Regions from separate parts of the Homo sapiens genome. Here region 1 is linked to region 2. Evidence: fine-mapped expression QTL. Tissue or cell type: CD4 T cells. Region 2 holds a variant in brackets; the other region holds the start of a gene. All regions are shown on one strand. Distances are from middle to middle.

Evidence for each region. PIP is the estimated chance that this variant, and not a neighbour inherited with it, causes the effect.
Region 1: LINC02538 starts here. The variant in region 2 is fine-mapped to the expression of LINC02538 in CD4 T cells (Kasela 2017, PIP 0.95).

The regions. Positions count from the first base shown.
Region 1 is chr6:167,676,872-167,682,019 of GRCh38, reverse strand. LINC02538 (long intergenic non-protein coding RNA 2538) reads left to right here and starts at 2,797. Exons shown (of 3, transcript NR_117091.1): 1 at 2,797-3,108; 2 at 3,821-3,960. LINC02487 (long intergenic non-protein coding RNA 2487) reads left to right here. Exons shown (of 7, transcript NR_117092.2): 7 at 83-1,329. It overlaps LOC124901465 (a long non-coding RNA gene), which reads right to left and starts at 3,788. Exons shown (of 2, transcript XR_007059883.1): 1 at 3,415-3,788.
Region 2 is chr6:168,643,589-168,648,736 of GRCh38, reverse strand. The region is part of intron 9 of SMOC2 (SPARC related modular calcium binding 2); the gene reads right to left. Among named protein-coding and RNA genes, the nearest start is that of SMOC2, 200 kb to the right of the region's middle. The variant G/A (reference allele first, on the strand shown) is at 2,305.

The DNA.
Region 1 (5,148 bases), 970 kb after region 2:
GGTTCTCTGGGCATGACTGTCTTCACCTTTATGGTTCACTCTGTGTCACTGGTGGGCTTTGCTCTGCTTCCTCCTCCCCCAGAGCATCTCCTGACAAAGCCACCATGAGCAAGACCCTCAGAGAAGGTATGAAGATGAGAGGCTGGTGTGAAGAGGCTGCTGTGAAGCAACTATATAGCATCGGGCAGGACATAAGGGGAAATTGTTGCTTTCATGTTCCTTTACCCCCACAGTTTGGATTTCTGCCACAAGGATCACTGTGGTCTTCCTCCCTGGGGCTCACTCCACCTACCCCACACCTCCCACCTCCCCCGTCCTCTCTTGGGGGACTTCCTGAGTTCTCGACAGAGCAGTTTCACTGTCTTCTCTCCACGCTTCCTGGACTGGCCCGCCCATTTTTTTCTATGACCCAGAATTCCTTCCCAAATAAGAGCGTCATATTCCTTGAGCCCCTTCACTAGAAGCAAGGAGATGGGCAGGCGTTGAACTGCGGCTTTTCTCTAGACTCTTCCCTAATCCCTAGGTTCCCCCAACTATTTAGTCTAGAGCAAGCCCAGGAACAGTGATTTTTTTTTTTTAACCTGCCATTTCTGTTATTCAAGCTGTTTTAGTCAGTTCAGGCTGCTGTAACAAAAATGCAATGGCCTGGGTGGTTTTAACAACAGAAATGGATTTCTCACAGTTCTTGTGAGGCTGGGACGCAGGAACCCCCACATCCAAGTGCCAGGCAGTTCCGTGGCTGGGAGGGCTCCAGACTGGTGTGTGGATGGCACCTTCTGCTGTGTCCTCACATGGCTGAGAGATGGGTCATCTCTGTTCTTATCAGGGCACTAATCCCATTCACAAGGCCCCCCATGACCTAATCACCTCCTAAATGCCCCGCTTCCTAATACCAGCACCTTGGAAAATAGGGCTTCAAGATACAAATTTTGGGGGACTCAAACATTCCATCCATAGCACCCGCTCATGTGCTGTGATGTCCAGTGAGCAGGCGGAGTTCCAGGGCTGGTCAGTGCCAGGTGCTCCTTCTCCCACCCGAGAACAGGGGCCAGGTTGCTCCTCAGGCACCCTGGGCAACTGCCCCTTCCCTTCCAGTGGGGCCTGACCTGGCTACCGAGCTTGGCAGCTAATAGGCGGGCCCCTCAGCATTCACGCTCCTGAGCTGCTTTATCAAACTAGGATTGTTCCCCCAGGTCTAAGAAAACCATCCATTCACTGCAAAGTTATTTATTACTGCGGATGGGCTAGGAGTTAGAGGAAGAGAGTGACTCAAATCACAACACCTCCTGGACGAAGCTGGAAGGGATTAAAATACGGCCTAATTTCTCCCTTGCTGTGTGAAGCGTGTGGTTCTCCTAGAACATCAGCCCGACTGTCGCTGGGTAGCGGCGGTACTGTTCATTCTGCATTAGCTTTGTCCAGATTGTTCAGTGTGGGTCCCTGCCTACAGATCTTGATTCCTTGAGATTGCCCTTTGTGCTTCTGTCTGGGGACTGCCTGTTTCTGTAATGGCCACCGTCTCAGAACACATGGTTGTAGGCCTCAGCATTTGCCTTACACACAGCCCCCTTGGAGACAAACCGTGTCTGTGTCCCTCAGAAGGCCCTGACTTTCAGGGCACACTCCAGCCTGACTTTGGCACTCTGCTAGACACATCCGAAACGCTGGTTCTCGTGTTGAAGTCTGTTATGGATATGTAGGGTAAGGCAGGGAAACTGGAGCGCCTGCATACCCTTGACTTCCTCCATTTGGAAAAGATAACCCTGAGACATGGTGGAGGAGAAGGGGCCCTGACCTGTCAGCTACATCTGGATGTAACTCCCCTGATGAAGAAAGTGCCAGAGGCAGCAAAGCAGCCCTTATAGGGTATTTTGTGCTCCCCCAACAGAGGAAGAGGAGCTTAGGGTCTCCAGGGAGAATGTCTGGTTGTGAAGAGCCGCCAGGACCTGGAGCTGCACGGTTGCTCAGTGTGCATTTCACTTGGTCAGCCCCTACGCTGGAGAGTGCTTGCATCCGAACCTTCAGTGCCTGGATAGACACTGAGCTGAGCGAACGGTATGCTGGAAAATGAAGCGTGCAAGTGACAAAGTGCTCAACTTAGACTCTGGGCAAAATTCTCACAAAGGGCTTTCTAATCCTCACTTAATGGAAGAGTGGAGCAATTTCCAGCAGAAGTTGTGGCTTGCTTCACCAGGTCTGCTCAGGTCAGCGGGGTGAGCCTACGGCCAGGATGGGTGGTAATTAATATTGGAATACTTGGCCAGTCTGCAGACCTCAGACCACAAAAAACCCTCCATCCTCAAGCAGTCTCTTCTTTATGCCTCGCAAGGGGAAGATAATTAAAGACTGTGGTAACGGGTTAATTTATAGGAAAATAATGTAGCATACTCAACTATCTATACTTTTTCTATTGCTAAATTTAATATACATCCATTTCTATTGATTATCAGAGGGGTCTAGACTCCCGGCCAAGAGTTGCGAAACCAGTCATTATCCCGCAGGCACCTTCCTGCTTTATTTCAGAACATTCAGTCATTCATTCAAAACAACCCAAAGCATCTGCATTCACAGAGCTGCCCTAACAGATGAGTTTTTCTTCATCTCCCAAGGTAATGATATAAAAAAAGTGTCAGCCATGGGATTTTCAGTGGGAAACGGGAAACCCAAGGCATGGTGCATTCAATGGAAAAATTCCTCAAGCTCGTGACCTGCATAAATCTCCAAATCCTTTTCAACATCATCCTGTTTAGTGTTCGGCATGAGGGTGCCTGCAGAGGAGGTGAATCCCTGCGTTTTCTATTCTTTTTTTCTTCCGACTGGTGTGGATCCCAGACAATTTCAGGGTCCTGCAGGGTTTGAGACCCTCTGTGAACACTGACCCGGGACCCCGTTTTGCCCATGGGAAGTTGAAGCCAGCGCAGCCCCCGGCCAGGGGCACTGTCTCCTCGGCCCCGGGATGCTGGACGGAGGGGACAACGTGCAGGGGCAGCTGCTGCTGGGCTGTGGACCTCCCGGAACCGGAGGAGCCCGGGAGGGGCTGGCCCAGCAGTGAGGGCTCCGATGCGCCTCAATTCATATGCTAAGGAGCCCTGGATTCGGCTTTAATTGGTGAGAGGAGAAAGTGGTGCAGCTGCCTGGGGCCGCGCTGTGGGAGCCAGGGCAGGAGGAGCTGTTTGAAAATAATCCCCGCGGGGACACGCAGCACCAACTCGGGCTTCAGTCCCTGGAAAGCGGCCGGGGGCGGGGCGGGAGGCCGGGATGCGGCGGAGAGCGACTGGCAGGGAAAGCGTGAGGTCACGGTGGCCACCGCACCGGCTCCAAGCAGCAGGGGCCCAGGGCTGAGCCCTGATTTCCACACCGGCCCCTGGATGAGCCTCAGTGTTTCACTCTGGCAATGGAAATAAGAATACCTACCTCACCCCATCGTTGGAATAAATGCAATAATGCAAAGGGAGGTCTTAGCACAGACGCGGGGCAGGCGCTCAACGCCTGGTGCCCACCGGCGCTGCGTCCTGGACGTGTCCAGCGAAGCCCGTGTGAGGCTATGACGGGAACGGAGGAGCTGGCGCGGCGCCTCACTGCTCCCCAGAGCCTTGCAGCGTCTCCCAGCCCAGGCTTTGCCCCACCACGGCTCCCATGGCTGCCGGAGGGAACCTCAAAGGCGGTTAGAATGCGCCGGGTAAATGCGCAGCTTTTCTTCTGGAGCCTCCACGAGAAAGAAATGGAGAGTTTTTTCCTGGGGCTGCTTGTGGTGCAAGTCCCGCTTGGGTGCAGGGCGAGCGGCTTCCGAGGAATTCACTGTCTCCTTCTCTCTTTCTAGCCGGAGTGGGAGGTGACCCCAGGGGCCCAAGCTGGGGGCGTGGCTGGGAAATGCACAGAAAGAGACTTCGACGGGGGTGGCTATGGTTTGTGCTGTGCTGTGCACACGTCTGGCTGATAGAAATCTATGTCTATAAACAGGTAACACAATTTGGTTTATCAAACCCATAATAAGCAGATTTTCTGACTTGCATAAGAATTTCTCTGTAATCTTTGCTTTAAAGTCCGTTGAATGCCATAGAAAAAGTTGCATTTGATGAGGCTTCAGGAAAGAAAAGGTAACAAACTATTCTAAGAGATGAGGATAGTGCCTGAGTGGGGCCCAGGACAGACAGGGGGTCCTCACCTCTTGCTGCTGGGGTTGGCTGCAGGGCTTTGCCTCAGTCTGATTTTTTGCAGCATCTACACAGTTTAAATACTTGGAAAAATCCTCTTTGTGAGTGTATTAAGTCACAGCCTACCAATGTGACAAATGACATCTAAATGCAATTTACAAATCCTAAGTTCCAGGTAGAAGAGAACGTGGTAGGTCCACGTCTTCATTTTCCCATACCTTTAGTCCGTCGAGACTCCGCTTAGCCAGCTCTGGCCATCCCTTTATCCTCCTAGGAACAGAATCTTACATGCAGTATTTTTACTGGTACGTAAAAAATTTAAGGCTGCACTAAGCAGGCGCCCAGGCCCCCAGAGTCAGAAGGGAGTGTACGGTGCACACATGATGACGATTTGAAAAGAGCCTGGCTTCAGGGCCTTGCAGATGAAGCTAACAAACCCCCTGTTCGGGAGGGAGCACCTGCACCCCAGCCCCCTCCCTCAGGGATGCATCTGCAGCCACTCCGGGGCAGGGCTGATGCCTCTGTGATGGTCCCGATGGTCCCGCCCGCAGCCTGCTCTTTGTGGCTCTTTGTTGCTCTTTGTCACAGTCCTGCTCAACAGCTGGTGCTTGCAGGAAGAAGCTCTCTGGCTGCAAGAAAGCCAGGGTGTGGGTGGATGACAGAATAAATGGGAGGGATGGAGGGCGTCTACTTGGCAGTTCGGATTCCTGGGCAGGGTCAAGATCAGGAGAAATAGGAAAATAGAAATAGGAGGAAAAGCTTCTGCCTTTTGTTCCAAACCAGCCTGGCTTGCCTGTGAAGGGGAGGACTTGACCAGGGCACTTTCCTGGGGCCACTGCCTGGCTTTTGGAGATGAGGTAGTGGCCTTTGTCTAAGATCATGTTACCTATACTCCTGGTTTAACTTTTTATTTAAAATTTTTTTAGACACAGGGTCTTGCTCTGTTGCCCAGGCTGGAATGCAGTGGCACGATCACAGTTCACTGTAACCTTGA
Region 2 (5,148 bases):
TTCACCAGGGGGGTTCTGAGAGTGCAAAAAGGTCTGTGTTAGTCTCTTTGCACACAACTGAAAAAGGAGATCAAAATCTATAGCAAAAAGCATCACGGCCACGGGGCAAATGCTACTTTCCAAGAAAGAAGTAACAGTCTCATCGAACATCCCCTCAGAAAGGCAGAGGACCTGAGGCTGCAGAGGCTGCTGGCCGCGGTGCTTCCAAAGCTGCCCAGCCCACCCGGCCTCGGCTCCCTGGGAGGGGCCTCCCGGTCTACAGAAGGCTGAGCTCCCCAGCTGCAGGACTAACCAGGAAGGGAAATGAGAAAAACAACTTGGAGGGCTGAAAATGCCTCCAGGGCACAGGCTCGGGAACACGTGGGCAGAAGCCCTGCCAGGCCAGCCGTCCAGGAGAACTTGTCCAGGGCGACGAGACAGGCGCCGGGGCAGGTGAGGCTGGGACCCACAGGACCTCGGGCACCTGCCTGCCAGGGCTGCTCTCTATGAATTTCCAGTCCTCCACTGGCCTCCAGAGATTCTGAGAGGAATATGGATTTGATGGAGAAGAATATTATTATCTGGGAGAAAAGGCGTTTTAGATAATCCTCAGTACTGAACAGCTTTAAGAAAGAATTATGTGGATATTTGGTGTGGTAATAGGGACACACCCAGGGGGATTTTTTTTGGCTGTTAATTTAATCATATTCCCCCAAATGAGATAAAGCAACACAATATTTCAAATGAGAAAATAATAGATGTTCATCACGAAACATGACTAACATAATATAAAAGCTGCAGGAGTCTTTAGTGCAAAAAGAAAAACTGAACATAAAAAGCATTATGTACTTCTAAAACAAGAAGCAGCAAATCAATCCTGCTCAGTCCCATGTCACAGTCACCCCAGGACCTGGAATAATGCTTGTTACTGATGACGGACGACTGTACTTCAAAACTACTTCTGAAGAAAAAAGGCGAACAAAAATGAAAGATTACAAGCAATCAGAAGAAAAAAACTAACTTTCATTATGTTAAAGTGAATGTTCACTGCATGAGAAATCACAGAAGTACCATGAAGTGAAAATTTCATCACCCTGAGATGTCCCAGATCTAGCAAACGCATGAGAGGAGCAACGAGGCTTGAGGTAAAAGAGAAACGACCCCAGAACAGCTGGGATTTCCCCACTGTTGCCCACAGGGAGCTATTCCGCTTCTCCCATGACAGCTGTGTCCGGCACGGTGATGGCTGCAGAGACCCTCGTCCCTCGCAGGGGCGCTGGCCCCCTGCCAACCCTTGCTGTAACTCCTCTGGCCCATCTTGATAGCAAAGCCACCCTTTGCTCTGGCATTTTGTGGTGTGTGATTCAGGCTGGGGAAGCTGCCCGCTGAGAACCTGTATGAGGAGCCTGGTGCTCTGGTGGGTCCTTTCTAGCACACTCCGCCCCCGGCCTTCTTCTCACTTAGCCGCCTGCACGGTGGGGTCTAACGGCCCCTGTAAATACTGCGTCATGGAAGGGTTGGCGTCAAAACTGCCGCATGCAGGCTCAGCGATGTACCCAGTCACCCTTTATTTTGGGACAGTTCCACTCACAGTAAGTTCTCCAACCACCCATTGAACTGAGTTCAGAAGTCTCAGGTCAACAGAGGCATAGCACGAAGGTGCTACCCCATACACACTCCCACCTGGGTTAGACGTGCCAGGCCCTCTCAAAGTCCACACCATGTGGCAGTGTCCTATGCCCAGGCTCCTGGGGGGAATAATAAGCCAATTCAAGAAAGAAAACCAGACTGTTCTTTTCAAAGCTAGAAACAGAATAAGTTCACCAATTTATATCCAATCTGTGGCAAAACAATGAAGGGAGTAGCTTAGCCCAAGTATCCTCAGGTGCTCCAGCTGATCTGCAGAATCCAAGTCCTTGACATCTGTGAGGTTTCTGTGGAAACACCGGGTTCTATCCTGGTTTTGCCCCACAGTAAAGGTGCTGCACCTTACAAAGCCCTGAGCCCTTCTCAACCCCAGAGCTCATCCAGTCAACAAAGTGGCTGAACTGGCGGGTCCCTGAGACCCCAGCCTATGGACCAGGGACTTTTCAGAAACTGGGTTAATATTCTGATGCTTTAAAAGCATTTTTGACTTTCACTCGTTTAAAATGAATGTGTTCTGTGCTTTCTATGAAACGTCCTTATTTTAAGAAACAAAAACCATTTTTGTATAAAAATTCCTGTTTCAGTAAGTTTATGTAGTTTCTTCTTTTCTCTTTGTCTTTTAAATACAAATGGATACAAGTTCCCAGCTGCTCCCTCAGTCGCCTCCTGTCTGGACAC[G/A]AATTAACTTTCGCTTCCTTCCCGTAACCTGGAACACCCAGTACTGCCCCTGAAGGAACTCAAACACAGGAGAAAGTGGAGCTGAGTGGTTTCCTCACTCACCGATCAAGAGAAGAGACCACTGGATAACAGCAGCCACACACTGGCACAATCGTGGGTCTGGATTGTGCCAGTGAGGCCTGCAGGGTCTGGATCGGGAACACGAGGGAAGCAGGTGTACGGACGGGGGCCAGAGATTTCACACGCAAGTAACATTATTAGCTCATCAGGCATGAAGTGTCTGGGGATAATGAGACGCATTCCTCTGGTTTTAAGTATCTAGCAGTGGCTTAAAAATCAGTTCTCTTAGTTTCATGTTTAGTTCCAATGTTTAGGAAACTGGTATAGATGAGAAATGAGGAGAAAAGAATGGATGACAAAGGAGCTTTCTTCTCTAAGTTGTTCAGATGCTTCTGAGGAGTGGTGTGTGCACGCAGGTATTCACGCCATCATCATTGTCTATGTATCCACTCACAGTTTTAGCTCCTCTGGCTTGGAAGTCCAATCATTTCTGTCAAGCAATCAGCCTGTGCTCCAATTCGCCAGCCAGGGACCCCGGGAATGCCTTTGCTGGCCTGATGTGAGGGGGACAGGTCAGCCACCTGAGAAAAGACTGTCCTCGTCTCCCATTGGGGGCCTGCGTGGTGACCTGGGGGGAAACCGCTTCTCTCGGTTTGGGCCAGGAACATGTGCCGTGTCTGCTGAGAACACCTGCTGGGCACCTTGGGGTCACTTCGTGGAGGTGGCAGTCAAATGCTATCTCCACTCTTGTGCCCGGGCTGTCACATGTGGGTTGGGAGAAAGCCCACAGGGTTGGATTTTTGAAGATTTGGTCAGAATTTTAAGGCGGGAACTGAGCATTCTCAAAGCCTGTGTGGTGCCCTGAGGGGAGAAAAGGCCCGAGGAGAGGAACTCAGGTGAACTGAGGAGTCTCTGTCCCGTGCTAACTCGCTAACTCCAGTTTCACTGGAATAAGGCAGAGGTTTCTCTGTCTGAGTGGCCCTTCCCCGTGGGTTTTAGGCTCACTTCCTCCCCATTTTAAGAATGTATCATAGAAAAGTTTGAGTGTGCTCTAGTTTTGTGCCATTTCCCCAAGGTAAAAGAAATACATTTTTAACTGCAGAGTTAAAAACGGACAGAAAATGAGACTTTTTATTGCTTCTAAGGGTTGAGAGAAATGGAAATAATGTTACTAAGATGTTTTTGTGACTCCTTCTCTCCTTCTCCAGAAATCTGTAAGAAAGGCGCTGAGAATTTCTCCTTTGCGATTAAATCCAGTTTTGTCTTGACACTAACAAAATTTTACATTTACTAACTCTATGATGAATGTTAGGAACCAGGATTTTAAGTTCCTTTATTGATTATAAACTATTTCAAACTATATAAAAGCAAATAGTTTATAATTTTCTTTCTAAATTATCTTTACTTGTAAGTAGGCATTCACTTGTGGGTCTGGTGGCTCACGCCTGTAATCCCAGCACTTTGGGAGGCTGAGGTGGGTGGATCACTTGAGGTCAGGAGTTTGAGACCAGTCTGGCCAACAGAGTGAAACCCCATATCTACTAAAACTACAAAAATTAGCCAGCCATGGTGGTACATGCCTATAATCTCAGCTACTTGGGAGGCTGAGGTGTGAGAATCACTTGAACCTGGGAGGTGGAGGTTGCAGTGAGCTGCGATCGTACCACTGCACTCCAGCCTGGGAGACAGAGCGAGACTCTGTCTCAAAAAAAAAAAAAAAAAAAAAAAGAAAGGCATTCACATTGACCCAACATTTGATTGGTCCTCTCTTTGTGCATAGCTGGGTGCCTGGAAAGAGCTCTGGGTACCAGGTAGTTTCTCCCTGACCCTGAACATCACTGGTGACTTGTGATGAAGGTTCCATTGTGTGCACACCAAATAAGGGGCATCTGTCTTCTGGTAGAAAAAGCTCTTTTCATCTGGCTGGGGAGGGAGAAAGAGGGTGCCAATAACAGCACCTGCATTTGGCTGGGTCTTTTCACAAACAGCTAGAAATAAAATGTCATGGCTACTCATTCTCACAGTTTAAAACACACCGACCTGGTACAGAAAAGCAGGGAAGATGTTGAGCCTCTGAGTGGCAGCCCCGCTGAAGAAAAGGCATCAGAGAAACAAAGGGGAAATTCCCAGGGCGGAGGGGTCCCGAAGCCATGTCCATAAACACGTGTGCTCTCACACTTGGCAGCTTTGGATTACCAACATTTGCTGAATTTGAAAACTCCGCTTTAAATCCTGACATTGCCAGAGTTAAAAAGCACCGCAATCTCAATGCTCCATCCCCAGCCGAAACAGACCACTCCTTCTACATAGTAAATGCTCATTTATTAAATGCTGTGCTTCTTTGTTTTATTCCAAGCGCAGATTTTCCTCCAGCACTCTTCAAAGAGCATGTCCCAGCTGTGTGGTCCAGGGAGTGTCACATGTGTGACGGGGTTCACAGAGGCAGGACTACAGCATTCCTGTCTGATCTACGCGTGGGGCCGTGTGCATGTCACCCTCATGCAGCTGACACTCAGCACCACACTGTGGCCTCGTGACTGCCTGGTGAAACTAATCAGCACATCAGTGTCTGAGGGAGAAACTGAGGCCCAAGTCACACTCAGTGGGAGACTGAAGGCTTGGATGGTGCTGAGAACTCTGACCTTGCTGGGGGGTAGAGGCAGGAGTGCATCCTACGTCCAGGTGATTTTGTGCCGAGCTCACCTGGAGCTCTCCCCGCTGCCCCACGGCCATGATGAGGCCGGGAACAGCAGACAAGGCCCCTGCCCACCACCACGCCTGTCC